Linked DNA regions of Homo sapiens: regions 1 and 2 are each linked to region 3. The links come from fine-mapping of genetic effects on gene expression. A gene starts in region 3. Each other region holds a variant in brackets. All regions are shown on one strand. Distances are between the middles of the regions. Region 1 has its middle 19 kb from the start of MUC3A. Region 2 has its middle 23 kb from the start of ACHE. Region 3 holds the start of SRRT (serrate, RNA effector molecule).

What was found. PIP is the estimated chance that this variant, and not a neighbour inherited with it, causes the effect.
Region 1: its variant is the best candidate, but not a certain one, in a credible set for the expression of SRRT in esophagus mucosa (GTEx, PIP 0.61).
Region 2: its variant is the best candidate, but not a certain one, in a credible set for the expression of SRRT in sun-exposed skin (GTEx, PIP 0.50).

What each region holds. Positions count from the first base shown.
Region 1 is chr7:100,925,134-100,935,066 of GRCh38, forward strand. It overlaps the pseudogene RPS29P15. Among named protein-coding and RNA genes, the nearest start is that of MUC3A, 19 kb to the right of the region's middle. RefSeq lists enhancers at 2,348-3,305, 3,306-4,262, 8,278-8,779. The variant A/G (reference allele first, on the strand shown) is at 3,052.
Region 2 is chr7:100,913,462-100,923,394 of GRCh38, forward strand. No RefSeq gene overlaps it. Among named protein-coding and RNA genes, the nearest start is that of ACHE, 23 kb to the left of the region's middle. RefSeq lists an enhancer at 3,323-3,432. The variant A/C (reference allele first, on the strand shown) is at 4,922.
Region 3 is chr7:100,870,353-100,880,285 of GRCh38, forward strand. SRRT (serrate, RNA effector molecule) reads left to right here and starts at 4,751. Exons shown (of 20, transcript NM_015908.6): 1 at 4,751-4,976; 2 at 5,221-5,360. The coding sequence starts at 5,239. TRIP6 (thyroid hormone receptor interactor 6) reads left to right here. Exons shown (of 9, transcript NM_003302.3): 5 at 18-111; 6 at 222-391; 7 at 1,191-1,369; 8 at 2,272-2,392; 9 at 2,820-3,102. The coding sequence ends at 2,951. RefSeq lists enhancers at 3,636-4,300, 4,301-4,966, 4,543-4,592, 4,803-4,862 and a silencer at 5,003-5,232.

The sequences.
Region 1 (9,933 bases), 55 kb after region 3:
CGCTCAATGCCAATATCCCATCCCACAGCACGCTTTAAAAGGATTAAAGTCTGTTATCACTCGCCTGCTACAGCATGGCCTTTTAAAGCCTATAAACTTCCCTTACAATTCCCCCATTTTACCTGTTCTAAAACCAGACAAAACTTACAGGTTAGTTTGGGATCTGCGCCTTGTCAACCAAATTATTTTGCCTATCCACCCCACGGTGCCAAACCCATATATTCTCCTATCCTCAATACCTCCCTCCACAACCCAATATTCTGTTCTGGATCTCAAACATGCCTTCTTTACTATTCCTTTGCACCCTTCATCCCAGCCTCTCTTCGCTTTCACTTGGCCTGACTGACACCCATCAGGCTCAGCAAATTACCCGGGCTGTACTGCCTCAAGGCTTCACAGACAGCCCCCATTCCTTCAGTTGAACCCAAATTTCTTCTTCATCTGTTACCTATCTCAGCATAATTCTCATAAAAACACACATGCTCTCCCTGCTGATCGTTTCCAACTGATCTCTCAAACCCCAGCACCTTCTACAAAACAACAACCCCTTTCCTTCCTAGTCATGGTTAGATACTTTTGACTTTAGGTACCTGATTTTGCCATCCTAACAAAACCATTATATAAACTCACAAAAGGAAACCTAGCTGACCCCATAGATCCTAAATCCTTTCCCCACTCCTCTTTCCATTCCTTGAAGACAGCTTTAGAGACTGCCCCCACCCTAGCTCTCCCTGACTCATCCCAACCCTTTTCATTACCCACAGCCGAAGTGCAGGGCTGTGCAGTTGGAATTCTTACACGAGAACCCACACTGCGCCCTGTAGCCTTTTTATCCAAACAACTTGACCTTACTGTTTTGCCTAGCCCTCAAGTCTGCGTGCGGCGGCCGCCACCACCCTAATACTTTTAGAGGCCCTTAAAATCACAAACTATGCTCAACTCACTCTCTACAGTTCTCATAACTTCCAAAATCTATTTTCTTCCTCACACCTGACACATATACTTTTTACTCCCTGGCTCCTTCAGCTGTACTCTTTGTTGAGTCTCCCACAATTACCATTGTTCCTGGCCCGGACTTCAATCTGGCCTCCCACCTTATTCCTGATACCACACCTGACCTCCATGACTGTGTCTCTCTGATCCACCTGACATTCACCCTATTTCCCCATATTTCCTTCTTTCCTGTTCCTCACCCTGATCACACTTGGTTTATTGATGGCAGTTCCACCAGGCCTAATCACCACACACCAGTAAAGGCAGGCTATGCTATAGAACAAGCCACTATCCCACCTCTTAGAACCTCTCCTTTCCTTTCCATCATGGAAATCTATCCTCAAGGAAATAACTTCTCGGTGTTCCATCTGCTATTCTACTACTCAGGGATTATTCAGGCCCCCTCCCTTCCCTACACATCAAGCTCAGGGATTTGCCCCCACCCAGGACTGGCAAATTGGCTTTATTCAACATGCCCCGAGTCAGGAAACTAAAATACCTCTTGGTCTAGGTAGACACTTTCACTGGATAGGTAAAGGCCTTTCCCACAGGGTCTAAGAAGGCCACCACGGTCATTTCTTCCCTTCTCTTAGACAAAATTCCTCGGTTTGGCCTTCCCACCTCTAGTCCTATAATGGACTGGCCTTTATTAGTCAAATCACCCAAGCAGTTTCTCAGGCTCTTAGTATTCAGTGAACTAATGGTCTTTTAAAAACACACCTTACCAAGCTCAGCCACCAACTTAAAAAGGACTGGACAATACTTTTACCACTTGCCCTTCTCAGAATTCAGGCCTGTCCTCACAATGCTACAAGGTACAGCCCAGTTAAGCTCCTGTATAGACACTCCTTTTTATTAGGCCCCAGTCTTATTCCAGACACCAGACCAACTTAGACTGTGCCCCCAAAAACTTGTCATTCCTACTATCTTCTGTCTAGTGATACTCCTATTCACTGTTCTCAACTACTCATAAATGCCCTGCTCTTGTTTACACTGCCAGTTTACACTGTTTCTCCAAGCCATCACAGCTGGTATCTCCTGGTGCTATCCCCAAACCGCCTCTCTTAACTCTTAAAGTAAATAAATAATCTTTGCTGGCAAGGCTGTGCTGAACCTCCTTAGGCACTCTAATTAGATGTCCTAGGTCCTCCCAATTCTTAGTCCTTTGATACCTGTTTTTCTCCTTCTCTTATTCCATTTAGTTTTTCAATTCATACAAAACCATATCCAGGCCATCACCAGTAATTCTACACGACAAATGTTTCTTCTAGCAACCCCACGATATCACCCCTTACCACAAAATCTTCCTTCAGCTTAATCTCTCCCACTCTAGGTTCCCACGCCGCCCCTAATCCCGCTCGAAGCAGCCCTGAGAAACATCACCCATTATCTCTCCATACCACCCCCCAAAATTTTCGCCGCCCCAACACTTTACCCCATTTCATTTTATTTTTCTTATTAATATAAGAAGACAGGAAAATCAGGCCTCTGAGCCCAAGCTAAGCCATCATATCCCCTGTGACCTGCACGTATAAATCCAGATGGCCTGAGGTAACTGAAGAATGACAAAAGAAGTGAAAATGGCCTGTTCCTGCCTTAACTAATAACATTACCTTCTGAAATTCCTTTTCCTGGCTCATCCTGGCTCAAAAGCTCCCCCACTGAGCACCTTGTGACCCCCACCCCTGCCCACCAGAGAACAACCCCCCTTGGACTGTAATTTTCCTTTACCTACCCAAATCTTATAAAACCCCGCTCTCCCTTCACTGACTCTCTCTTCACTGACCACCCCTCTCTCCCTTCACTGACTCTCTTTTCGGACTCAGCCCGCCTGCACCCAGGTGATTAAAAGCGTTATTGCTCACACAAAACCTGGTGGTCTCTTCACACGGACTCAAGTGAAACTGACCTCAAGTGATCCGCCCACCTCAGCCTCCCAAATTGCTGGAATTACAGGTGTGCGCCCCTGCGGCCAATTTTATACGTTTTAGAGGGATGGAAGTTACAGGCATACGTCAATCAATACGTGTAAAGTGTACATTTGTTCACTCAGGAATC[A/G]TGGAACAATTTGGGGTGTGGGGCAGGGGGACTTCCAGATCATAGGTAAATTCCAAGATTTTCTGATTGGAAATTGGTCGAAAGAGTAAAGTTATGATCTAAAGACCTGGAATCAACAGAAAGGCGTGTCTGGTTTAAAAATAAGAGGTTGTGGCCTTTTACCTTGTTGCACTTCTGAGAGCAAGATGGGTCACCAGCAGCTGTACTAGAGCCACCAGTGAATATTCGGCCAGGGTTTTCATTCTTGTCACATCGGCCCAAATCGGCATGGTCTGATCTGTAAATATGCCCTCAATATGTACTGCCAGTGTTTCCGTCAGTACAGGAAAGATATCGGTTTCATTAAGTTGCACTAACTGACCTTCCTTGAAAGGTTTATCCAACGCATGTACCCAGTGAAAAACCATGATAGTGGCCGGGCACGGTGGCTCACGCCTGAAATCCCAGCACTTTGGGAGGCCAAGGTGGGCAGATCACAAGGTCAGCAGATCGAGACCATCCTGGCCAACATGGTGAAACCTCGTCTCTACTAAAAATACAAAAATTAGCTGGGCGTGGTGGCATATGCCTGTAATCCCAGCTACTCAGGAGGCTGAGGCACGAGAATCACTTGAACCCGGGAGGTGGAGTTTGCAGTGAGCTGAGATAGCGCCACTGCACTCCAGCCTGGCAACAGAGCAAGACTCCGTCAAAAACAAACAAACAAACAAAAAAAACCCCAAAAAACCATGATAGCTCTTTGCACATAAAATAAACATTTTTTAAAAAGATAAGGGGTTGTGGAGACCACCTGTTTTTTTTTGACAGAGTCTCGCTCTGTTGCCCAGGCTGGAGTACAGTGGCGCAATCTTGGTTCACCGCAACCTCCACCTCCCGGGTTCAAGTGATTCTCCTGCTTCAGCCTCCCGAGTAGCTGGGACTACAGGTGCACACCACCACACCTGGCTAATTTTTTGTATTTTTAGTAGAGACAGGGTTTTTCCATGTTAGCCAGGATGGTCTGGATCTCCTGACCTTGTGATCTGCCCACCTCGGCCTCCCAAAGTGCTGGGATTACAGGCATGAGCCAAGACCAAGGTTCTTGTTATGCAGATGAAGCCTCCAGGTAGCAGGCTTCAGAGAGAATAGATGGTAAGTGTTTCTCATCAGACTTAAAAAGGTGCCAGACTCTTAGTTATATCTCTCCTGAATCAGGAGAAGACCTGGAAAGGGAAGGGGACTCTCTACACAGTGTAGATTTTCCCTACAAGAGACAGATTTGCAGGGCTGTTTCAAAATATGTCAAAGAAAAATTTATTTTGGGGTAAAATACTTCTGTTTCTTTCAGGACCTGCTATCTGTCATGTGATGCTGTACTTCAGTCAGGTTGGAATTTGGTATCTTATTGCTACAAAGAGTCTGTTTTGTCAGCCTTAAGATCTCTGTGTTGATGTTAATGCTGGTCAGTTGTGCCTGAATTCCAAAGAGATGAGGGCAGAATGAGGCATGTCCAACACTCCTTCCCATCATGGCCTGAACTAGTTTTGCAGGTTTACTTTGGAATGCCCTTGGCGAGAAGGAGTCCGCTCAGTAGGTTGGGGGGCTTAGAATTTTCTTTTTGGTTTACAGGTGCAAAGCTTGTGATTTAGCCAGGAGATTTCCTGCCCCTCCCAAGGGGGCAGATTTTGCTTCAACCCTCCCTCACCATGTAATGAGGGGCTGGTCCTATCCCTCCCCCAGAAATACATGGCCTTACTTGTACCCTTACTTCCACCAGGAGTGAACCTTTGCCTGTCCTCAGGGGATGGGAAGGATTCCTGCCCCTTCCCCTGAGGCTTAAGTCCTTCTGCTTCTTGTGAGACAAGGTTCTGGGAGGTAGGAGGGGGTTCATGCCTGAGAACCACTGAGGGAGCCTCTTTCTTGTCTCATTGTACCTCCAATCTTTCTCATGAGCACCAAGAGGTGGAAAAGAGATTGCGAGTGAACTTGGGGTCTGCTAGATCCTGATGCACCCAGGGGGATTCTAAGTTGTCATGCTGGCCCACTCCTGGCCTCTGAGAATTCATTAAAATGTTGTTTTCCTATCACCTGCTTTTTTGGTGGCCACTTCTTCCTCCTGTGCTCTGACAAAGGTGGAACTTTTCATGTGTCCTGTCTCTCCTGAGAGGGTGCGGTCACTCTTTGGACCTCAGTTCACCTGGTTGCCTTGAAGCCTAAATTTCTGATGGGCTCAAGAAATGCCAAAACCTATAGATTACCCAGCTTTTTCTTCTTTTTATGGTAGGAGTGATAGTCTCTTGTGGATTTATTTTATGTATTAATTTTATTGCACTTTTTGTAGAGATGGGGGCCTTGCTAGGCTGCCCAGGCTGGTCTTGAGCTCCTGGCCTCAAACGATCCTCCTGCCTTGGCTTCTCAAAATGCTGGGATTACAGGTGTCAGTCACCATGCCCAGCCTCTTGTGGCTTTTTTACTCTAAGTGAAAGCATAAATCCAATAATTTTTATTTTTATTGTTATTGTTTGGAGATGAGTCTCACTCTGCCACGCAGGCTGGAGTGCAGTGGTACAATCCCGGCTCACTGCAACCTCTGCCTTCCAGGTTCAAGTGATTCTTCTGCCTCAGCCTCCTGACCAGCTGGGATTACAGGCACATGCCACCACGCCTGGCTAATTTTGTATTTTTAGTAGAGATGGAGTTTCACCATGTTAGCCAGGCTAGTCTCAAACTCCCGACCTCAGGATCTGCCCACCTCGGCCTCCCAAAGTGCTGGGATTACAGGCGTGAGCCATTGTGCCCAGCAAAAATCCAATAATTTTTAATAACTCAAAATATGATTTTGACTACGTAAATTTTTTTTTTTCCCTTTGTCCCTCTTTGTAATTTGATGCTTTGGTATCTCAGTTCTAGTTTTTGATTTGGCTCCAGGTAGTACAAGTTCTCATGGATTACATGTATGGTTTAGAATCCTGAAGTCAATGAGATGAGAGCAGACCTAACATCAAACACTTGAAGTAAAGAAATTTATGTGGAAGGAATATATAAAATGAGTTTACATTGGGTAGTTTGGATAAAGCATAACATTAGAGAAGGGTACATGTAGCTAGATGTGTCTTTACCTTTAAAAAAACTTGAATATTGAGGCTGGGTGCAGTGGCTCATGCCTGCAATCTTAGCACTTTTGGAGGCCAAGACGGGCGGATCACTTGAGGTCAGGAGTTTGAGACCAGCCTGGCCAACATGGTGAAACTATTTTTAGTCTCTACTAAAAATACAAAAATTGGCCAGGCATGGTGGTGCATGCCTGTAATCCCAGCTACTCAGGAGGATGAGGCAGGACAATCACTTAAACCTGGGAGGTGGAGGTTGCAGTTAGCTGAGATGGCACCACTGCACTCCAGCCTGGGCAAAAGAATGAGACTCAGTCTCAAAAAACAAACAAAAGAACCCAACAAACTTGAATAGCGAAAGGAGGATATTTTGATATGTTATTTCCATTTTCAGTAATAAATACATGTGTGTATCCAATAACTTATTAAAATGTAGATTTGTTTATTGAAAAACTTATTAGCATGAGGTCAGGAGATCAAGACCATCCTGGTTGACACAGTGAAACCCCATCTCTGCTAAGAAAGTACGAAGGAAAATTAGCTGGGTGTGGTGGCAGTGGTAGGCGCCTGTAGTCCGAGCTACTCAGGAGCCTGAGGCAGGAGAATGGTGTGAACCCGGGAGGCGGAGGTTGCAGTGAGCCGAGATCGTGCCACTGCACTCCAGCCTGGGTGACAGAGAGAGACTCCATCTCAAAAAAAAAAAAAAAAAAACAAACAAACTTATTAGGAGGTTTTAGTGGCAGATTAGACAGAGCTGAAGAGAGAATCTGTAAACTGAGAGAACAGAAGAAACTCACCACATGCTTCATGAGCAGCTATGAGACAGAAAATACGGAAGAGTAGTTAAAAACACATGAAGAATAGAAAGGGAAGGGTTAACCTCTATTTAATTGCAGTTCCTGGAGAAAAGAGTTAACGGGGGAAGAGAAAATATGTGAAGAGAGAATGGCTGGCAAGTTTCCCAAACTGAGAAGAGACCTTATCAGCTTTGAGAAGCCAAGGAATCCCAAGCATGATAAATACAAAGAAATCCATGCCCAGAAACATCCTGGTGAAGCTTCAGAATATTAACGAAACAGAAAGTCTTAAAGCAGCAAGAGAAAAAAAATTAAAGGCCTGACAGATTAAGCTCAGTCTTCTGTATAGCAACCTTGAAGCCGGAAGACAATGGAATCTTATTCATGTGCTGAAAAAAAAAAAAACTGTCAACTTAGAATTCTATACCTAGTAAAAATACTTTCAAGAGGCCGGGTGCGGTGATTCACACCTGTAATCCCAGCACTTTGGGAGGCCGAGGCAGGCAGATCATGAGGTCAGGAGTTTGAGACCAGCCTGGCCAACGTGGTGAAACCCCGTCTCTACTAAAATACAAAAAAATTAGCCGGGGTTGGTGGTGCATGCCTGTAGTCCCAGCTACTTGGGAGGCTGAGGCAGGAGAATCACTTGAATCTGGGAGGTAGAGGCTCACCATCTACCCGGCTAATTTTTTTGTATTTTTAGTAGAGACGGGGTTTCACCACGTTGGCCAGGCTGGTCTCGAACTCCTGACCTCATGATCCGCATCCCCCCTCCCCCCGCGGCCTTCGAAAGTGCTGGGATTACAGGCGTGAGCCACCGCACCCAGCTCAATGGCTGAACTTTTAGCTTCATTTTAGCAGAGTTCAGACACCCCCATAATCCTAATCTTGTGAGTTGTCATTAGTTTTACAAAGGCAGTTTGGTCCCAGAACAAACAGGTGGTAGTTTTGGGAAGGGCTATTATCATCCTTGCTTTAAGTTTAAACCATAAATTAAATTCCTCCCCAAGTTAACCTAGCCTATGCCCAGGAATGAACAAGGACAGTTTAGAGGCTAGAAGCAAGAAGAAGTCAGCTAGATTACATTATTTTACTGCCATCATTTTCCTGTGTCGGGTCTTACTCACTGTCATAATTTCTTTTTTCTTTTTTTTTAAAGACAGAGTCCTACTCTGTCACCCAGGCTGGAGTACAGTGGGGTGATCTCGGCTCACTGCAACCTCTACCTCCCAGATTCGAGTGATTCTCCTGTCTCAGCCTCCTGAGTAGCTGGGATTACAGGCACCTGCCACCATGTCCGGCTAAGTTTTAGTAGAGACGGGTTTTGCCATGTTGGCCAGGCTGGTCTCGAACTCCTGACCTCAAGCACTCCACCTACCTTGGCCTCCCAAAGTGCTGGGATTACAGGTGTGAGCCACTGCACCCGGCCTCTGTCATAATTTTTGCAAAGGCGGTTTCAGTGGGGTCTCCAAACCACTCTCCTTGGCCAGGTTACCAGTTTCCCACCTGGGCACAGTGGGTTAGGGTCCTGGGGGTTGGTCCTCCCAACTCCAGTGTCTTCTGGTACCATCCTCCCTCCTTGCAGCAAATATAGTGTCTGTGGTCCAACTCTGGAGTTACTGTGGCCAGAGGCTCTTAGTTACCAGATTAACTGTCCCTTCCCCACTCCTTTCCCCACCAACCATCTGCTTCTGTACCAGCTACCTGGCTAGGAGGATTTCTACCTCCCCCTACCTAGGGGTCTGGCCCTGTGGTAAGACTGCACCCACCCGTGAAGCCACGCCCCATCCAGGAAACCACACCCACTCAAGAAGCCCTGCCCACCCAAGAAGCCCCACCTGCCAGCAAGCCACAGCCATCCAAGAAACCCCACCCATCCAGGGAGCCCTGCCCAGCCCATCAGATGGTCCCACTCACCCATGAAAGCCACTGCCGAGGTATTCACAGCCCTGCTGCTATTCGGCCTGCCCATCAGGAGCCAGTCCACAGAACTCCATTAACCTTGCTGTCAAAACAGGGTTTCCTGGCTGGGGGGCTTACTCCTGTAATCCCAGCACTTTGGGAGGCTGAGGCGGGTGGATCATTTGAGGTCAGGAGAATAAGACTAACCTGGCCAACATGGGGAAACCTCGGGAGTTCTAGACCAGCCTGACCAACATGGTGAAACCCCACCTCTACTAAAAATACAAAATTAGCTTGGCATGGTGGCATGGGCCTCTGATCCCAGCTACTCAGGAGGCTGAGGCAGGAGAATGGCTTGAACCTGGGAGACTGAGGTTGCAGTGAGCCAAGATGAAGCCACTGCACTCCAGCCTGGGTGACAGAGTGAGACTCTGTCTCACAAAAACAAAAACAAAACAAACAGGGTTTCTTTTTATAGACAATCTCCAAAGGCAATTTCATGATGATTAGATTCAAACAGGATGGCACCTAGGAATTGTCCAATCTTCAACATTATCTAGAAAGTTTCTCCCAAATGATGCTTTAGTTTAGAATACTGTACCCCTCTCTCTCTCTGCATTTTCACAATCTGAGGTTTTTCTTGTTTGATCGTTTATTTTATTTTATTTTACTATTCTATTTTTTGCACCAGAACGCCCATGGAAACACATGCAGTCCCGTGACCTCACGCTGGATTTTTCAGTTTCTAGAAATTAAATCAGCAAATTTGGAGTCCAAAGAAATGGGTTGCTAGGTGTGGTGGCACACCCCTGTAATCCCAGCACTTTGGGAGGCTGAGGCAGGTGGATCACTTGAGGTCAGCAGTTTGAGACCAGCCTGGCCAACATGGCAAAACCCTGTCTCTACTGAAAACATAAAAATTAGCTGGGCATGGTGGTGCACGCGTGTATTCCCAGCTACTCGGGAGGCTGAGGCAGGGAAATTGCTTGAACCTAGGAGGTGGATGTTGCAGTGAGCCAAGGTCACGCCACTGCATGCCGGCTTGGGAGACATAGCGAAACTCCATCTCAGAAAAAAGAAAAAAAAAGAAATAG
Region 2 (9,933 bases), 43 kb after region 3:
ATAAATTTAGTATACAATATATTTTCCATAGTTTGATTCAACTGGAAATTCAAAATTCATATAACAAAAATATAAAAAAGGACACTGGGTTTTGTGCCTCTACAATGTAGGTTCTAACTTTAACCTTTCAAAAAATGCACTAGGCCAGGCGTGGTGGCTCACGCCTGTAATACCAGCACTGTGGGAGGCCAAGGTGGGAGGATTGCTTTAGGCCAGGAGTTTGAGACCAGCCTGGGCAACATAATGAGACCCCTGCCTCTACAAAAAAAATTAAAAAAAAAGTTAGCCAGGCATGGTGGCGAATGGCTGTTGTCCCAGCTACTCTGGAGACTGAGGCAGGAGGATTGCTTGACCCCTGGAGGTTGAGGCTACAGTGAACCATGATAGTGCCACTGCACTTCAGCCTGGGTGACAGAGGGAGACCCTGCCTCCAAAAAAAAAAAAAAAAAAAAGAAGGAGCCCCATCCTACATACCAGATGCCAGACAACATCACCCCAAAATCTCACTGCTGTAGATGCCATCATCTCAGACGACATCACCCCAACCCAGGGCCTTGACACTAGAGATGACTTCACCCCTTACGCTAAACCTTCACTCCTTGGGTGGTAAACCTAGGTCACGCCCATGGATTCACCTCTCCTAAGACACAAATGGACATAGGACATTTTTACTTTTCTTTCTGAACTCCCTGCCTGCATAGGCTATGATCTTAGTACGCTGCTTGCTCTCTGCTCACATCCATCCCTAAAAGAAACTCTGGCCATGTGCAAGCCAATCTGGAAGCCATGCCAGTGTGTGACAGCATCATTACACTCTGCTCTAGGTCCAGAGTTGATCTGTTCCCTTGGCGCCACCCTAGGCGGTGGAGTGGGTGGCTGTGCATGGGATTTCAGGTCAACTGGGTGCCTTCATATGCTTCAACTGTTTACGCTCATCCAAGGCCTTACTCAGCATGGCACGTAGCCCAGACTTCTCTGATAGCCTTTAATATCCACACCATTCGAACGGTACCCGTTGGAATATGCACAAGGTCTCACGCCTAGGTCAGTGGTATTAGGAACAACAGACCAAAGGTTGCTGGCTAGACTTTAGAAGTAGATCACCACATCCACATGGGCCAAGCTGGTAGCCAGAATATGAACTTAAAGGCGCCTCTCTCACCCAGCAGGCTGGGCTCCCTGCATTCCCGCCACTTCCTTTATTTTTATTTATTTATTTATTTATTTATTTATTTATTTATTTATTTTGAGATCGAGTCTCGCTCTGTTGCCCAGGCTGGGGTGCAATGGTGCGATCTCAGCTCACTACAACCTCTGCCTCCCAGGTTCAAGCGATTCTCCTGCCTCAGTCTCCTGAGTAGCTGGGACTATGGGCGCAAGTGACCAGGCCTGGCTAATTTTTATATTTTTAGTAGAGATGGGGTTTCACCAGGCTGGCCAGGTCTCGAACTCTCTACCTCCACGAGGTTCTTTCTTTCTTTCTTTCTTTGAGAGAGTCTTGCCCTGTTGCCCAGGCCTCGAACTCCTGACCTCAAGTCTCAAACTCTTCTCTTCAAGTGATCCACCCGTCTCGGCCTCTTGGCCTCCCAAATTGCTGGGATTATGGGCATGAACCACCGCGCCCAGCCCCCACCACTTTCTTTAAGTGGAGCATTTAGACATCTGCCCTTGAACTTCAAGTGACTGGCACTGTATTCCCCTCTCTATATATGTACTGCTAGTTGCCACATGCTCTCTCCACTCGACTCTACTCCTATTCTCTCTTTCTCTACTTGACCTGGGGATGGAGGACTGTTCTCCTAACTCATGGTGCCCTCCTGACTCATGGTGTTTTCCCAACTCATGGTGCCCTCCTGACTCATGGTGCCCTTCCTGCCTAGGAGGCCCTTATTTATTGTCTGTAAAAAATCTCTGGGGCCAGGCACAGTGGCTCATTTCTTTAATCCCAGCACTTTGGGAGGCCAAGGCAGGAGGATCACTTGAGCCCTGGAGTTCAAGACCAGCCTGGGCAACATGGTGAGACTCCATCTCTTTTTTTTTTTTTTTTTGAGATGGAGTCTCACTCTGTCGCCCAGGCTGGCGTGCAGTGGCACGACCTCAGCTCACTGCAAGCTCCACCTCCTGGGTTCACACCATTCTCCTGCCTCAGCCTCCCGAGTAGCTGGGACCACAGGCGCCCGCCACCACACCTGGCTAATTTTTTTGTATTTTCAGTAGAGACGGGGTTTCACTGTGTTGGCCAGAATGGTCTCGATCTCCTGACCTCGTGATCCGCCCGCCTCGGCCTCCCAAAGTGCTGGGATTACAGGCGTGAGCCACTGCACCCGGCCGGTGAGACTCCATCTCTATAAAATAATAATAATAAAAAGAAATCTTTGAACTTGTTTCCTATTGTGATGGTGTCAGAAGCATTTGAACCAGAGCGACCCCATCTTGAGTAGGGACTGGGTAGAATGGGCTGAGACCTGCTGGGCTGCATCCCAAGAGGTTAGGCGTTCTTAGTCACAGGATGAGATAGGATGTAGGTTACAAAGACCCTGATAAAACAGGATGCAATAAAAAAAATGCCAGCCATGGCCACGTGCTTTGGCTCACATCTGTAATCCCAGCACTTTGGGAGGCTGAGGCGGGCGAATCACAAGATCAGGAGTTCGAGACCAGCCTGGCCAACATAGTGAAACCCTATCTCTACTAAAAGTACAAAAAATTAGCCGGGCGTGGTGGCGGGCCCCTGTAATCCCAGCTACTCAGGAGGCTGAGGCAGGAGAATCACTTGAACCCGGGAGGTGGAGGCTGCAGTGAGCTGAGATTGTGCCATTGCACTCCAGCCTGGGCGAAAGAGCAACTCCGTCTCAACAAAAGCCGGCCAAAACTCGCCAAAACCAAGATGGCAACAAGAGTGACCTCTGGCTGTCCTCACTGCTCATAATATGCTAATTATAATACATTAGCTTGCTAAATGGCACTCCCACCAGTGCTGTGACTGTTTGCAAATGCCATAGCAATGCCCAGAAGTTACCCTATATGGTCTAAAAGGGGGAGGAATTCTCAGTTCTGGGAAATTCCTACCCCTCTTCTGGAAAACTCATGAATAATCCACCCCTTCTTTAGCATACGATCAATAAATAACCATTAGAAAATAGCCAACCAACAAAACAAACAAACTAATAAAAAAAGAAGAACAAACAATAAAAAACAAAACGAAACAAAAATGGCCAACCAGCAGCCATCGGGGCTGCTCTGTCTATGAAGCAGCCATTCTCACGTTTTTTCACTTCTGTAATAAACTTGCTTTCACTTCACTCTGTGGACTCACTCCAATTTTTTTATTTTTTTATTTTTTTTATTTTTTGACGGAGTCTCGCTCTGTCACCCAGGCTGGAGTGCAGTGGCATGATCTCAGCTCACTGCAAGCTCCGCCTCCTGGGTTCATGCCATTCTCCTGCCTCAGCCTCCCGAGTAGCTGGGTCTACAGGCATGCCTGTCACCACGCCCGGCTAATTTTTTGTATTTAGTAGAGACGGGGTTTCACCGTGTTAGCCAGGATGGTCTCGATCTCCTGACCTCGTGATCCGCCCGCCTCAGCCTCCCAATGTGCTGGGATTACAGGCGTGAGCCACTGCGCCTGGCCCTTCCAAATTCTTTCTTGCACAAGATCCAAGAACCCTCTCTTGCGGACTGAATTAGGACCTGTTTCCGGTAAAAGTGCTTTCCTGAATTTTCAACTTCCATCTGAAGAACTAGGGGAAATCTGAGGCTGGGTTTTCCCTGGGGCGCCTGGGGGAACATAAGATTGGGCTCCCAGAGCCAGAGAGACCATCCAGCAGGCATAAACTGGACGTGGTGGGTCACACAAAAGCCACGAGGTGTCTGCCAGTATAAGCAAGTTTCCCAAGTAAGGGACCTTTAGGGATCCCTAAGCATTAGGCCATCCATTAGGTAAATAAGTATCCTGTGAAAAGCCCGCTGTGAACACTACACCCAGCTTCCCTTCATTTCTCCTTAAAGCAGGTTTGCTAGCCGCTCTGCTACTGAGACCCTCATGTAGCTCTCAAAGCAGGGTGTCTTTCCATGTTCTTGCTCGCCCCGCTCCCCAGTAGCTTGGGCCTGCCGTGGCTGGTTATGTTAGAGTAGGTATCTAGGCAGACATGAGGAGGGTAGGAGAGGATGCCCCATTCCCTTCCCCAGTAATGTCAAGTGACAAATAGGTGGTGGTCAAGTGGTTGTTAAACTGTCTTTCTGAAATAATAATTGGTTGTAGCTGGCGCCAGGGAAAGGTGGTTTCCCAATAGACAGAAAACACCTGAGGCTGGTGATAAGCAGCTTCCTGATAAGATCTCAGGAGTTGGGTGAGTGGGCTCAAGCATGTGCACTAAGAGGCAACATGGCAGAGTTTAAGTGGTATTTCTTTTTTGTTTTGTTTTTGATGGAGTCTTGCTCTGTCGCCCAGGCTGGAGTGCAGTGGAGTGATCTCGGCTCACTGCAATCTCCAACTCCCAGGTTCAAGGGATTCTCCTGCCTCAGCCTCCCAAGTAGCTGGGATTACAGGTACACACCACAACGCCCAGCTAATTTTTTTTTTTTATTTTTAGTAGAGACGGAGTTTCACCATGTTGGCCAGGATGGTCTTGATCTCTTGACCTCATGATCTGCCTGCCTCAGCCTCCCAAGTGTTGGGATTACAGGTGCGAGCCACCGCGCCCGGCCCCAGCTAGTTTTTATATTTTTAGTAGAGGGGGGTTTCACCATGTTAGCCAGGCTGGTCTTGAACTCCTGACCTCAAGCAATCCTCCTGCCTTGGCCTCCCAAAGTGTTGGGATTACAGGCGTGAGCCACTGCACTTGGCCAACAGATCTATGTCTTCCCAGGAACCCTCAGCTGGTAGGGGAAGAACGCCTCAAACGAGCATGTGCACAACTTC[A/C]GTAAATATACTGTTCCCACCCCAAGGGAAAATCAAGGGAGAAGAGACGCAACCCCCGGAACCATGCCAATGTATAAAACCCCAAGTCAGGGGCTCAACAGTGCACTTGAATCTCTCAAGTTGCCTGCTTGGCCCTCTTCCAAGTGTACTTTACTTCCTTTCTTTCCTCTAAAACTTTTTTTAAAAATTTATATTAATTAATTATTTTTGAGACAGAGTCTTGCTGTGTCATCCAGGCTGGAGTGCAGTGGTGTGATCTCAGCTCACTGCAACCTCTGCCTCCTGGGTTCAAGTGATTCTCCTGCCTTAGCCTCCCCAGTAGCTAAGATTACAGGCGCCCGACACCACGCCTGGCAAATTTTCGTATTTTTAGTAGAGACGGGGTTTCGCCATGTTGGCCAGGCTGGTCTTGAACTCCTGGCCTCAAGCAATCCGCCCATCTCAGCCTCCCAAAGTGCTGGGATTATAGGCATGAGCTGTCCCGTGCCCGGCCTCGTTCCTGTTCTAAAACTTTTTAATAAACTCTGACTCCTGCTCAAAAACTTGCCTCAGTCTCTCACTCTGCCTTATGCCCCTCAGAGGAATTATTTCCTTCGAGGAGGCAAGAATTGAATTGCTGCAGACCCGTGTGGATTCGCTGCTGCTAACAAAAGAAGCAACCCATGAAAGGGACACTGCAAACACCATGTCCTTCATTTCCCATTAAAGCAGGGTTACTAGCTGCTCTGCTACGGAAACCCCCATTTAGTTGGGGGCTTTCAAAGCAAGATCTCTTCCCATGTTCTTGCTTTCCTCACCCTGCCAACAGCTTGGGACTGTTCTTGTGGGTTACTTGGTGTGAGGCTCATGGTAGAGGTGTTACAGGAAAGGAGTCCCAATCCAGACCCTTCAAGAGAGGGTTCTTGGATTTTGCATAAGAATTCAGGGTGAGTCCGTAAAGTGAAAGCAAGTTTATTAGGAAAATAAAGAAATAAAATAATGGCCTTTCCATAGACAAAGCAGCCCTGAGGGTGGCTGGTTGACCATTTTTATGGTTGTTTCTTGATGACATGCTAAACAAGGGGTGGATTATTCATGCCTCCTCTTTTTAGACCATATAGCGTAATTTCCTGACGTTGCCATGGCATTTGTAAACTGTCATGGCGCTGGTGGGAGTGTAGCAGTGAGGACGACCAGAGGTCACTCTCTTCACCATCTTGGTTTTGGTGGGTTTTGGCCGGCTTCTTTACTGAAACTAAGGGAGGAGACCACCCTTCATATTGTCTTATGCCCAATTTCTGCCTCCAAAGAAAGAAGAAGTAAAAACTAAAAGGCAGAAATGAAATCCACATTTCATTTCTAAAAGACAGCCCAGTGCCACACACTGGGCCTGGTTGTTAAAGATTGACCCCTGACCTAATTGGTTATGTTATCTATAGATTACAGCTATTGTATAGAAAAGCACTGTGAAAATCCCTGTCCTGTTCCATTCTAATTACCGGTGCATGCAGCCCCCAGTCACGTACCCTCTGCTTGCTCAATCAATCACGACCCTCTCATGCAGACCCGCTTAGAATTGTGAGCTCTTAAAAGGGACAGGAATTGCTGACTCAGAGAGCTCGGTTGTTGGAGACGTGAGTCTTGCTGAAGCTCCTGGCTGAATAAAGCCCTTTCTTCTTTAACTCAGTGTCTGAGGGGTTGTGTCTGCGGCTTGTCCTGCTACAAAACCTGTTTCATCAGCAAGGTCTTTATGACCTGTATCTTGTGCCGACCTTCTATTTCATCCTGTGACTTAGAATGCCTTAACCATCTGAGAATGCACCCAGTAGGTCTCAGCCTCATTTTACCCAGTTCCTATTCAAGATGGAGTTGCTCTGGTTCACCTGCCTCTGACAGAGGCATGGTATTCCATTTCTTCAGGGCTAGTCTCTGTCTCAGGCAAGTTTTTTGCTCCTGGGTCTTGGGGATGGAATTTCTCAGCATATCTGTCCTTCCTCGTGGCAGCCAAACTTTTCCTTTTGTCTTTGGGTTGGTGGGGGTTTTGGCAGGACAGAATTTCTCATCCCTACTCCCATGGTGGCTGACCTCTCTGTATCTGTGCAGGCTTCTGAGTGCAAGCAGCTGTCCTCCCCTCCACCAGGGCACTCAGCTTTGCCTCTAGTTCTTCTTCAGCAGCAGCTAGCTTGGAAAGGAGAGCAGGAGGATGTGTAACCACCTGAGAGGTTCTTCTTGCCTGCTGCGTAAAGAAACACCATGGCATTGTAGTAGAGAAAGAGTTTAATAGACACAAGGCTCGCCATGCCACATGGGAGATGGAGTTAGCATTCAAATCATCTTGTCCAAAGCTTGTATGTTAGGGGTGTCATGGGAAAACGACAGCTGGTGGTGTGGGGTAAAAGAATTTGTGAAGACAGTTGTAAGTAAAGGAAGCCAAATTTATTAGACAAAGTAGGAAAATACACTGCCAGAGAGATAACGGGCTACCAGCAGAAGAGAAACTGACTGCAAAAAACAAAGACTCGCTGGAGATTTTATAGGGTAGTGTTTATGCTCTCTGTTGAAGAGGGCTTTATGTAGTACTGATAACATCAAAGTTGCAGTGAGCTAACTTACAGGTGTCTGGTGATAGCTGGGTGCAGGAAAGGTTGTAAGTTACTTGTGCAGGAGGGCTGTGTGTCCTGGATCATGAAGAAAGACAGACTTGTTGCTTATCTGCTTTCTCTTTTTGCTTTCTCTTGGTTCCACCAGCCTGGTTCCCTTTCCCTAATTAGGACTCCACAAAGGGATGAGGGTGGCCAGGTAATAGGTGCTTGCTGCTGATTGGTTGGGGTGGAGATGAAATTCTGCCTCCTGCAGGCAGAATTGCTTCTGGGCAGGGCCACAGGGGTGGGTTTGGTGGGGGATTCAGGTGGGTTCAGGTGGAGCCATGGATGTCTGACATGCAAAAATCCTGAAAAGACATCTCAAAAGGCCAATCTTAGGACTCAAGCTCCTCTCCTCCAAGCCTGATGGTCTCCCATTGGCTTTACAAAAGGCTTTGGGGAGGAGAGGAGTTTCAGGGCAAGGCCTGTTATCATTTAAATGATAACCTAAAATGTCTTCCAAAGTTAGCTTGGCCCAATAGCCCCCAAATAATCAAGGGAAAGGCAAGGTGGTGCAGGTGGAGGGTGTTAACTCTGCTTACTATTATAATTTTTCTCAGTGATAAAATTTTCACAAAGGCAGTTTTAGGTAGACTACTGATCACTGTCAACTGATGTGTTGACAAAAAGAGTTAAACTCTAAAATATTTAAAGAGATTTATGCTGAGCCAAATATGAGTGACCAAGGCCCATGACATAGCCCCTAAAAGTCCTAAGAACAGGTGCCCAAGGTGGTTGGTTTACAGCTTTTATACATTTTATTTTATTTTATTTTAGGCAGAGTCTCACTCTGTTGCCCAGGCTGGGGTGCAGTGGCACTCACTGCAACCTCTGCCTCTCAGGCTCAAGCAATTTTTGTGCCTCAGCCACCCAAGTAGCTGGGATTACAGGTGTGCATTACCATGTCTGGCTAATTTTTGTATTTTTATTGGAGATGAAATTTCACTATGTTGGCTAGGCTGGTCTCGAACTCCTGGCTTCAACTGATCCTCCTGCCTTGGCCTCCCAAAGCGCTGGGATTACAGGCATGAGCCAGCACCCCTGGCCAATTTTTTTTTTTGAGAGGGAGTCTTTCTCTGTTGCCCAGGCTGGAGTGCAGTGGCACAATCTCAGCTCACTGTAACCTCTGCCTCCTGGGCTCAAGTGATCTCCTGCCTCAGCCTCCTGAGTAGCTGGGATTACAGGTGCCCACCACTATACCCGTTAATTTTTGTATTCTTAGTAGAGATGAGGTTGCACCATGTTGGCCAGGCTGGTTTCAAACTCCTGACTGTCAGGCCTCTGAGCCAAAGCTAAGCCATCATATCCCCTGTGACCTGCACGTATACATCCAGATGGCCTGAAGTAACTGAAGAATGACAAAAGAAGTGAAAATGGCCTTTTCCTGCCTTAACTGATGACATTACCTTCTGAAATTCCTTTTCCTGGCTCATCCTGGCTCAAAAGCTCCCCCACTGAGCACCTTGTGATCCCCACCCCTGCCCACCAGAGAACCCCCCTTTGACTGTAATTTTCCTTTACCTACCCAAATCTTAAAAAATGGCCCCACCCCATCTCCCTTCGTTGACTCTCTTTTCGGACTCAGCCTGCCTGTACCCAGGTGGTTAAAAAGCTTTATTGCTCACACAAAGCCTGTTTGGTGGTCTCTTCACACGGACGTGAGTGAAATTTGGTACCGTGACTCAGATCGGGGGACCTCCCTTGGGAGATCAATCCCCTGTCCTCCTGCTCTTTGCTCCATGAGAAAGATCCACCTACGACCTTGGGTCCTCAGATTGACCACCCAAGGAACATCTCACCAATTTTAAATCGGGTAAGTGGCCTTTTTTCACTCCCTTCTCCAACCTCTCTTAGTATCCCTCAACCTCTTTCTCCTTTCAATCTTGGTGCCACACTTCAGTCTCTCCCTTCTCTTAATTTCAGTTCCTTTCCTTTTCCGGTAGACACAAAGGAGATGCATTTTATCCATGAACCCAAAACTCCGGCACTGGTCACAGACTCAGGAAGAGAGTCTCCCTTGGTGTTTAATCACACGGGGATGCCTGCCTGATTATTCACCCACATTTCAGAGGTGTCTGACCATGTGGGGATGCCTGCCTTGGTCCTTCACCCTTAGTGGAAAGTACCGCTTTTCTGGGGGGCAAGAACCCCCTGACCCCTTCTCTCTGTGTCTCTACCCCTTTTCTGCTTTTCTAGGGGGCAAGAATCCCCCAACCCCTTCTCTCCGTGTCTCCACCTCTTCTCCACTTTTCTGAGGGGCAAGAACCCCCTGAACCCTTCTCTCCATGTCTCTACCCCTTCTCCACTTTCCTAGGGGGCAAGCACCCCTGACGCCTTCTCTCTATGTCTCTACTCTCTCTTTTCTCTGGGCTTGCCTCCTTCACTATGGGC
Region 3 (9,933 bases):
CGATTCCCACCTTCCAGGTGCCCCTGAGCCAGCCTCCAGAGGATGAGCTGGATAGGCTGACGAAGAAGCTGGTTCACGACATGAACCACCCGCCCAGCGGGGAGTACTTTGGTGAGCTGAGGCTGTGGGGTGGGTGGGACGTGGGAAGGGAGGCTGGGAGACAGAGGGGACAGTGGCTTCCTGGGTCTGTGAAGACTGATGCTGTTTCTCCCTGTCCTCAGGCCAGTGTGGTGGCTGCGGAGAAGATGTGGTTGGGGATGGGGCTGGGGTTGTGGCCCTTGATCGCGTCTTTCACGTGGGCTGCTTTGTATGTTCTACATGCCGGGCCCAGCTTCGCGGCCAGCATTTCTACGCCGTGGAGAGGAGGGCATATTGCGAGGGCTGCTACGTGGTGAGTGGCTGGGGCTGGGAGGAGGGAGTCAGTGGCTGGATGCAGGGGGCTTCCATCCAAGGTGGTAACTAGAGCGTCCAAGACCAAAGGAGGAACGGTGCTAAAAGCCAGGCGACTGAAAGTGATGTACAAACAGGGCGGAATTCTGCAAGTATCAAGCAAGTAGCTTAACACTGGTGGCTGAAGGGAAGGACGCAGCTCTTACAAGTGTGGAGCATCTTACAGTTAAAGAGAATGTGTTAGATTCCCATGACACCCCTGTGAGGCAGGTATTACTACTGATTCCTGGTTTTGTTTTTTGTTTTTTTTTGAGACAGTCTCGCTCTGTTGCGCAGACTGGAGTGCAGTGGGGTGATCTCTGCTCACTGCAACCTCAGCCTGCCCTGGTTCAAGCGATTCTCATGCCTCAGGCTCCCGAGCAGTTGGGATTACAGGTGCCCACCACCACACCCAGCTAATTTTTGTATTTTTAGTAGAGACAGGGTTTCGCCATGTTGGCCAGGCTGTTTTGAAACTCCTGGCCTCAAGCAGTCCGCCCACTCTGGCCTCCCAAAGTGCTGGCATTACAGGCGTGAGCCACTGCACCCAGCCTGATTCCTGTTTTTCTCATAGTGTTTAAATACCGTGTATAGTGCTGGGACCTGAACTCAGATCTGCTCAAGTCTGCCTTTCACCGAATCACATGCAGGAGGCTGCATGCAGGAGGCTGCAGAAATTAGATGGCTGGGTTGCTGGGGTTCCTGTTGAGCTGCCATGGCTCCCGCCCGCTCCCAGATCTTCCTGCCTTCCTTCCCAACAGGCCACCCTGGAGAAATGTGCCACGTGCTCCCAGCCCATCCTGGACCGGATCCTGCGGGCTATGGGGAAGGCCTACCACCCTGGCTGCTTCACCTGCGTGGTGTGTCACCGCGGCCTCGACGGCATCCCCTTCACAGTGGATGCTACGAGCCAGATCCACTGCATTGAGGACTTTCACAGGTCAGGCCTGGCCTCCACCTTGTCTCACAATGTCTGACCTTTCCTGTCTCTCTCATCTCTTCATGCCCCAGGACTGTCTCTTCCTGTTTCCAACCCTGGCCCTCCTTCGTTCTTTGTTATTGTTATTTTTTAGAGACGGAGTTTCACTCTGTTGCCCAGGCAGGAGTGCAATGGCATGATCATAGCTCACTGCAGCCTCCAACTCCTGGGCTCAAGTGATCCTCCTACCTCAGCCTCCTGAGTAGCTGGGACTACGGGTGCACACGCCACCATGCCTGGCTAGTTTTCTTCGTTTTTTTTTTTTTTTTTTTGAGATGGAGTCTCACTCTGTCACCCAGGCTGGAGTGCAGTGGCACGATCTCAGCTCACTGCAACCTCCACCACCTGGGTTCAAGTGATTTGCCTGCCTCAACCTCCCCAGTAGCTGGGATTACGGGCGCATGCCACCACGCCTGGCTAGTTTTTTTTTTTTTTTTTTTTTTTGTATTTTTAGTAGAGACAGGCTTTCATCATGTTGGCCAGGCTGGTCTCAAACTCCTGAGCTCAAGCGATCCACCTGCCTCGGCCGCCCAAAGTGCAGGGATAGCAGGCGTAAGCCACTGCACCCAGTCTTCTTCTTTGTATTTTAATAAAGACAGCGTCTTGCTGTGTTGCCTAGGCTGGTCTTGAACGCCTGGCCTCAAGTGATCCTCCTGCCTTGGCCTCCCAAAGTCGGGGGATTGCAGGCTAGAGCCACTGCACCTAGCCTCTCTCATTCTCTTTGACATCGTCCCTTCCCCAAGACCTAAGGCCATACCTCTGGCCTCTCTGATTCCCTCCTGTGCCCCACCTTCTCTGGGTTCCATTGTTGGTGCCCTGCAACCCCAAGGCTTGATGGCCTTCTTGGTTCTCTTCCCCTGCAGGAAGTTTGCCCCAAGATGCTCAGTGTGCGGTGGGGCCATAATGCCTGAGCCAGGTCAGGAGGAGACTGTGAGAATTGTTGCTCTGGATCGAAGTTTTCACATTGGCTGTTACAAGTGCGAGGTCAGGGGCCCCCAGCACGTGCAAGGGGCTGGCAGTGTCTAGGGTGCTGGGTAGAGCATGAGGGGGAACACAGAGGTCTGGGGTTGATGGAAACCTGTTGCTTCTTTCTTTTTTTTTTTTTTTTGAGACGGAGTCTTGCTCTGTTGCCCAGGCTGGAGTGCAGTGGCACAATCTTGGCTCACTGCAACCTCCACCTCCCGGGTTCAAGTGATTCTCCTGCCTCAGCCTCCTGAGTAGCTGGGATTACAGGTGCTGGCCACCATGCCTGGCTAATTTTTGTATTTTTAGTAGAGACAGGGTTTCACCATATTGGCCAGGCTGGTCTTGAACTCCTGACCTTGTGATCCTCCTGCCTCGGCTTCTCAAAGTGCTGGGATTACAGGCGTGAGCCATCGCGCCCGGCCAATTGTTGCTTCTTTTTCAACAGGAGTGTGGGCTGCTGCTCTCCTCTGAGGGCGAGTGTCAGGGCTGCTACCCGCTGGATGGGCACATCTTGTGCAAGGCCTGCAGCGCCTGGCGCATCCAGGAGCTCTCAGCCACCGTCACCACTGACTGCTGAGTCTTCCTAGAAGTACCTGCTGGGTTCTCAGTTCCAGTTCCCATCCTTTGATTGATCACTCTCCCTGACATCCACCTGTATGACTTTGTCACCAAATGCTGTCTTCTCTTTCTCCAATCAAGAAATAATAATCCCTCGAGTTTACAAAACACTTCCAAGTCTGTTGTCTCATCTGATTCTCCCAGTAGCCCATTACAGGCCCAGTCATTGTTACTGCCTGCATTTTTTTTCTTTTTTTTTTGAGACGGAGTCTGGCTCTGTCACCCAGGCTGGAATGCAGTGGTGCCATCTCGGCTCACTGCAACCTCTGCCTCCCAGGTTCAAGTGATTCTCTTGCCTCAGCCTCTTGAGTAGCTGGGATTACAGGCGCCCGCCACCACGTCTGGCTAATTTTGTATTTTTAGTAGAGACGGGGTTTCACCACCTTGGTCAGGGTGGTCTTGAACTCCTGACCTCAAGTGATCTGCCCGCTTCACCCAACCAAAGTGCTGGGATTACAGGCGTGAGCCACCGCCCTTGGCCACTGTCTGCATTTTTACATGTGAGGATGTCAGAGCTGAGAGGTGACTCCCCCAGATTGCATGGTTCTTAAATGGTGGAACCTGGGTCTTTTTGACTCAGGTCCAGTTTTTTTTGACAACTCTTGTAATCCGTCACTACCCTCCTCTCAGTGCTGGGAGCAAGCACGCCTCAGGGAGGAGGCAAGATTTCCTCTATGTATCTATTTTGAGACAGGGCCTCACTCTGTTCCCCAGGCTAGAGTGCAGTGGTGCAATCAAGGCTCACTGCAGCCCTGAACTCCTGGGCTCAAACAGTCCTCCTGGCTTAGCCTCCCCAGTAGCTAGGACCACAGGGGCATCCCACCAAGCCCAGTTATTATTTTTTTGTGTGTAGATGGGATCTTGCTATGTTGCCCAGGCTAGTCCTGAACTCTTGGGCTTAAGTCCTCCCTCCTCGACCTTCCCAAGTGCTGGGATCACAGGTGTGAGCCAATGTGCCTGGCCCTAAATATTCTGTAAAGGGGCCTTGCTATGTTGCCCAGGCAGGTCTCCAACTCCTGGGCTCAAGTGATTCTCCCACGTCGGCCTCCCAAAGCGCTGGGATTGCAGGCGTGAGCCATCTCAGCTGGTCTTCCTATTAAGTCTCACACTCAATTCACTGAGAGGGGCCTTGGTGTTACTCCCGGGGGTGGTAATCCATTGAATCTGGGCGGTCCATACTCTGTTTAGGGCGTTAACTTACAGCCTATTTCATCCAAATACTGAGCGGGGTTAAGACTGAGATCTGCCAATTTTACTTAAAGACGGGGCGTCTTTGTCGAGGAAAAGCAGGAACGGCGGACTTTGCATTTAGTGCGCACTGTGGCACCCAATTTTGGCTGGATATTTGGAGCAGAAAATGGTGGGATACGATGCTTTAAAATGGTTGCTTCCACCTTCCATCCCCTAAGCGCCCGCGCTTCCCAAGCCCACGCCCTGCCCGAGGAGGGGACGAAATCACCCCCGGTGAGGTCAGGAGGCCCGTGGGGGGAACATGGCTGGATGAGAACCGTCTTAGGACCCCGACACATCTGGGGTCGCGCGATCCTCGACTTCCGCTCTCCCTTCGCGCCCAGAGGGCTTGTTCGCCTCCCGAGGCCGCGCTTGGCCCAGCCGAGGTCCCGTAGTTCCTAACGCTCGAGCCGTTATCGTCTCGAAAAGCCGCGCGAGACTTGCGAGATCCCCGCCCCTTTCCCATCACGCCCTGCTCTCCCCGCCCTTCGCGCTCGGTTTGTTAGTTCCAGTTCCGGCCGCGAGGGTGGAGCTTTGTGCCTCGGAGGCGTGGGTGACGCAGGCGCAGCGCGGGCTGCGCGCGCTACTGCCCATCCCCGGTTGTCCCACTTTTGTTCGCCTCTCTTCGGCCCTCTACTCAAGAGCTCCGTCTCCGTCTCGCCCTCCTCGAAGTCCTCGTCGCGCGCCCGCGACCCAGGTCGCCCTGAAATCTAGCCCGTCCGAGCGCGAGTCCAACGGCCGCGGCCGCACCAAGGTGGGGGAGGGGAGGAGCCTGGGGGGCCCCGCTGGGGCGGGAGAGGAACCGGGGTCCACGGGGGCGGGCGCGGAGAAACTCGGGGCGAGTGGAGGTGTTGGAGCCGCGTTCTCAGGCCTAGGATGGTGGGGGCCGCGGAGGGCTGGCCTTGGCGGGAGGGAAGCGGGCGAGCTGCCCGCGAGGGACGGTCCCTTCCTCCGCTCGTCCTTTTGCACCACTCCTACCGCCTCTCCCCGGTCCCCAGGCCCCCTCAGACCGTGCCATGGGTGACAGTGATGACGAGTACGATCGAAGGCGCAGGGACAAGTTCAGAAGAGAGCGCAGCGACTACGACCGTTCCCGCGAGAGAGATGAAAGACGTCGAGGGGACGATTGGAATGACAGGTGAGCCGTTTTTAACTTCATCTTGTCCCCGTTTCATGCCGTTTCACTCCACCCGCGTCGCTTTTCTTTCTCCCCCTTGTAATTTTTATGAGGGCGAATCCTATGAAATGGCTCATTGGACCGTTTTCTGTGGTTCAGCCTATTTGCTGTTGGCCAAATAACTAGCTGTGGCTTGGTTTTTGAAATTCTCTGCAGATCAGAGCTATAGAGCTAAGAGTTTGAGTATGAAGAAGCACTGTTTATACATGCACGAAAAGCGTGCTTTTTTGCTTTTTTTTGTTTTGTTATTGAGATGGGGTCTTGTTCTGCTGCCCTGGCTGGAGTGCATTGATGCAGTCGTAGCAGCCTCCACCTCCCGGGCTCAACCGAGCCTCCCGCCTCAGCCTCTTGAGAAGCTGGGACTCCAGGGGGAGGCCATCACGCCCGCCTAACTTTTAAAAATTATTATTGTTATTTCGAGACAGAGTCTTGCCCTGTCGCCCAGGCTGGAGTGCAATGGCGCAATCTTGGCTCACTGCAACCTTCGCCTCTGGGGTTCAAGTAATTCTCCTGCCTCAGCCTCCCGAGTAGCTGGGATTACAGGCACCTGCCACCACGCCCGTCTAATTTTTGTATTTTTAGTAGAGACGGGGTTTCACCATGTTGGCTAGGCTGGTTTGGAACTCTCGACTTTAGGTAATCCACCCAGCTCGACCTCCCAAAGTGCTGGGATTACAGGCATGAGCCAGTGCTTGGTCTAAAATTATTTTTTGTAGAGACAGCGTCTTGCTCTGTTGCCCAGGTTGTAAATTATATTTTAGGAGGATTGCTTCAGAAAAATAATAATATAGAGTTGATCTGACTGGAGAGGTCGTCAGATTATTTCCCTGACAATATATGATTAGGTTTCTTGTCACTGTTTTGCCTAAAATCTCAGAGTTCATAGGGCGGTGCTGATTGGATTGATTATAAGATGTGGTTATTGACCTTAGGGTGTTACAGTGAGCTTGGCATGGGGGATCAGAATGGCAGTGGATGTATTCTGTAAATGAGTATATATAGTGGAAGTTATAAAGAGGGTAAGCATTGAGGGAACAGATCTCTAAAGGAGGGGAGCGGTGCTGGAGGTTGTGTGTCAGGGACCCACTGGAAAGTGACACTTGGCTAGACTTGGAAAGATGAGTGGGAATTCCCCAGACACGAGTGACATGAACAGCTTGGAGTTGTGGACATAACGTGTGATTTTAGCATATTCTAGTTTGGTTAGAGTCCTGTTTCTCAGGATGTCCACAGACCATAGGGGGTCTCCGAGGCTAAAATTAGTTTTTGTGGTAATGTTTACATATTATTGCCATTTCCACTGTTGGTGCCATAGCAATGATGGGTAAAACCGCTGATGCTTTACCAAACATCAAGGCAGTGACAGCAAAGAGTTAAAAAAAAAAAGCCAGCCGGGCCCAGTGGCTCACACCTGAAATCCCAGCACTTTGGGAGGCCGAGACGGGCAGATCACGAGATCGAGAGATTGAGACCATCCTGGCCAACATTGTGAAACCCTGTCTCTACTAAAAATACAAAAGTTAGCCAGGCATGGTGGTGCGCGCCTGTAGTCCCAGCTACTTGGGAGGCTGAGACAGGAGAATTGCTTGAACCCAGGAGGCACAGGTTGTAGTGAGCTGAGATCACACCCCTGCACTCCGGCCTGGCGACAGAGCAAGACTCTGTCTCAAAAAAAAAAAAAAAAAAAAAAGCCACTTCCATCAATGATTCTTGATGAAAGAGTAAAACATTTAAATTTGATTAGATTGGACTCTTGACTGTACGTCTTTTTTAAAAAAATTTTTTTTTGACACAGAATCTTGCTCTGTCACCCAGGCTGGAGTGCAGTGGGGCGATCTCAGCTCACTGCAACCTCCACCTCCTGGGTTCAAGTGATTCTCCTGCCTCAGCCTCCCGAGTTGCTGGGATTACAGGTGCGTGCCACTCTGCCTGGCTAATTTTTGTATTTTTAGTAGAGATGGGGTTTCACCATGTTGGCCAGCTGGTCTTGAACTCCTGACCTCACATATCCACCTGCTTCGACCTCTCAAAGTGCTGGGATTACAGGCCCGCGTTAGTTGTCTTGAGCAAGAGTACGCATGTGATTGAGTGAGCTGAACTAACAGCTTTTTTCCATGGGATGTTATTTTTACTTGAATGAATGACAAACAGTGATTGTTCATACTTGGGTATTTGGCAGACATCTTGAAAATGAACTGAGAACCTGTTACTTCAGTGTAAGCTGTTGGTATTTGTTGCCAGTGATGAAGTAGAACTTTCCAGTGAAAATTAAAATTTTGGGCCGGCGCAGTGGCTCATGCCTGTAATCCCAACACTTTGGGAGGCGAAGGTGGGTGGATTGCTTGAGCCCAGGAATTTGAGACCAACCTGGGCAACGTGGTGAAACCTGTCTGTACAAAAAAATACAAAAATTAGCTGGGGGTGGTGGCACATGCCTGTAGTCCCGGCAACTCCGGAGGCTGAGGCGGGAGGATGGCTTGAGCCTGGGAGGTGGAGGTGGGAGTGAGTCTTGATGGCACCACTGCATTCCAACCTGGGCAACAGAGAGATACCCTGTCAAAAAAAAAAAAAGGAAATTAAAATTTTGGAAAACTTCTACTAATGTGAGCTTGACAGCTTCCCATTAAGTAAAGACTTTCTTGGTGAGATAGGCAGTGATGCTGATGAGTACATTTTGATATTGGGTGAGACATAATCCAGGTCCATTGAAAGGGAAAGATAGAACAGTGGATTTTAATGCAGCAGAGAAAGAAATATTCACTGATACTATTTCAGATTGAAGGTTCTAACTAGCCTGTGAGAAACTACTTCCTTCTTGGACAAGGTAGCATAAAGAAAAGAAAAAAAAGAACCTACCTCTTGTTGAATTTTGGGTAGTATCCAAAATGAATATCTACAGTTAATCTGAAAAGGCCTTTCCAACTCCTTATCAGTATGAGGCCTGATTTTCTGTTTTTTTTTTGAGACGGGTCTTACTCTGTTGCCCAGGTTGGAGTGCAGTGGCACGATCATGGCCACAGATCACTGCAGCCTTGACTTCCCCAGGCTTAGGTGATCCTCTCACCTCAGCCTCCTGATTAGCTGGGACTACAGGTGTATGCCATCACACCCAGCTAACCTACTTTCTTCCTTCCTTCCTTTTCTTTTCTTTTCCTTTCTTTTCTTTTCTTTTCCTTCCTTTCTTTCTTTTTCTTTCTTTTCTTTCTTTCTTTCATTCTTTCTTTCAGATGGAGTCTCACTCTGCCCAGGCTGGAGTATAGTGGCGTGATCTGGGCTCACTGTAACCTCCATCTTCCGGGTTCAAAACGATTCTCCCACCTCAGCCTCCCGAGTAGTTGGGATTACAGGTGCCTGCCACCACGCCCGGCTAATTTTTGTGTATTTAGCAGAGACAGGGTTTTGCCATGTTGGCTAGGCTGGTCTCAAACTTCTGACCTCAAGTGATCTGCCTGCCTTGGCCTCCCAAAGTGCTAGGATTACAGGCATGAGCTACCACTTCCAGCCAGCCAGCTAAGTTTTGTATTTTTAGTAGAAAGGTGGTTTCACCATGTTGCCCCAGCCTGGTCTTGAACTCCTGGGCTCAAGCAATCCACTGCTTCGGCCTCCCAAAGTGCTAGCATTCATTACAGATGTGAGCCACCATGCCCGGCCTGCCTCATTTTTCAAGCAGAACAAAATATCTCAACAGATTCAGTGTAGAAGCTATCCTCTACAAAGCCAGAACTTGGAGAGATTGGTGACAATGTAAAAACAATGCCACTTTTTCTCACCAAAATTTTTCTGGAAAACGATTTTTCATAAAAACATGTAATGTGTTTCATCTTACTGTGTAATTTAAAAATGAAGGTTTTGGAACATTTCGTTTTAATTTTGAATATAGTAAGTATCGATAGATGTAACCCACATAAGCAGAAACTCTTTGGTGTCCTCAGTCATTTTTAAGAGTATTAAGGGGCTGAGGCAGGAGAATTGCTTGAGCCCAGGAGGCGGAGGCTGTAGTGAGCCGAGAGTGATTGTGCTGCTGCACTCCAGCCTGAGCGACAGAGTGAGACTGTCTCCAAAAAAAAAAAAAAAAGAAGAAGAAGAAGATGAGGATGGGGGAGGCTGGTGATTGGTTGGGAGGTTGGTGACTGGTGGAGAGGCTGGTGACTGGTCGAGAGGCTGGAGTGACAGCCAGGAGCCCAAGTTAAAACAATAGTGTTGCTTACTGACATTGAAGTAACGGTGTGATGTGATGAGACTTGTGTTTGAGGAAGGTCTGCCTGCCAGTGGGGAGACAGAAGCGAGAGACCAGAAGCAGGCGGGCAGCCAGGGCTGCAGGAGCCACACTGGCCAAGGACAAAGACTAGGACAGGGTGTGTGGGGATGGCAGAGAGTGGGACAGCTTTGATAGGCTTTGAGGCAGAGGATTAGCAGGAGCAGTAATTAGCGGTGAGGGTAGTGAATGACAGCTGGCGAGAGATGCTGTTCCGTTGATACAGCAGAGTGGGGAGCGGGAGGAGGAAAAGACATTTGGGCCCATAGTGGTGGGATG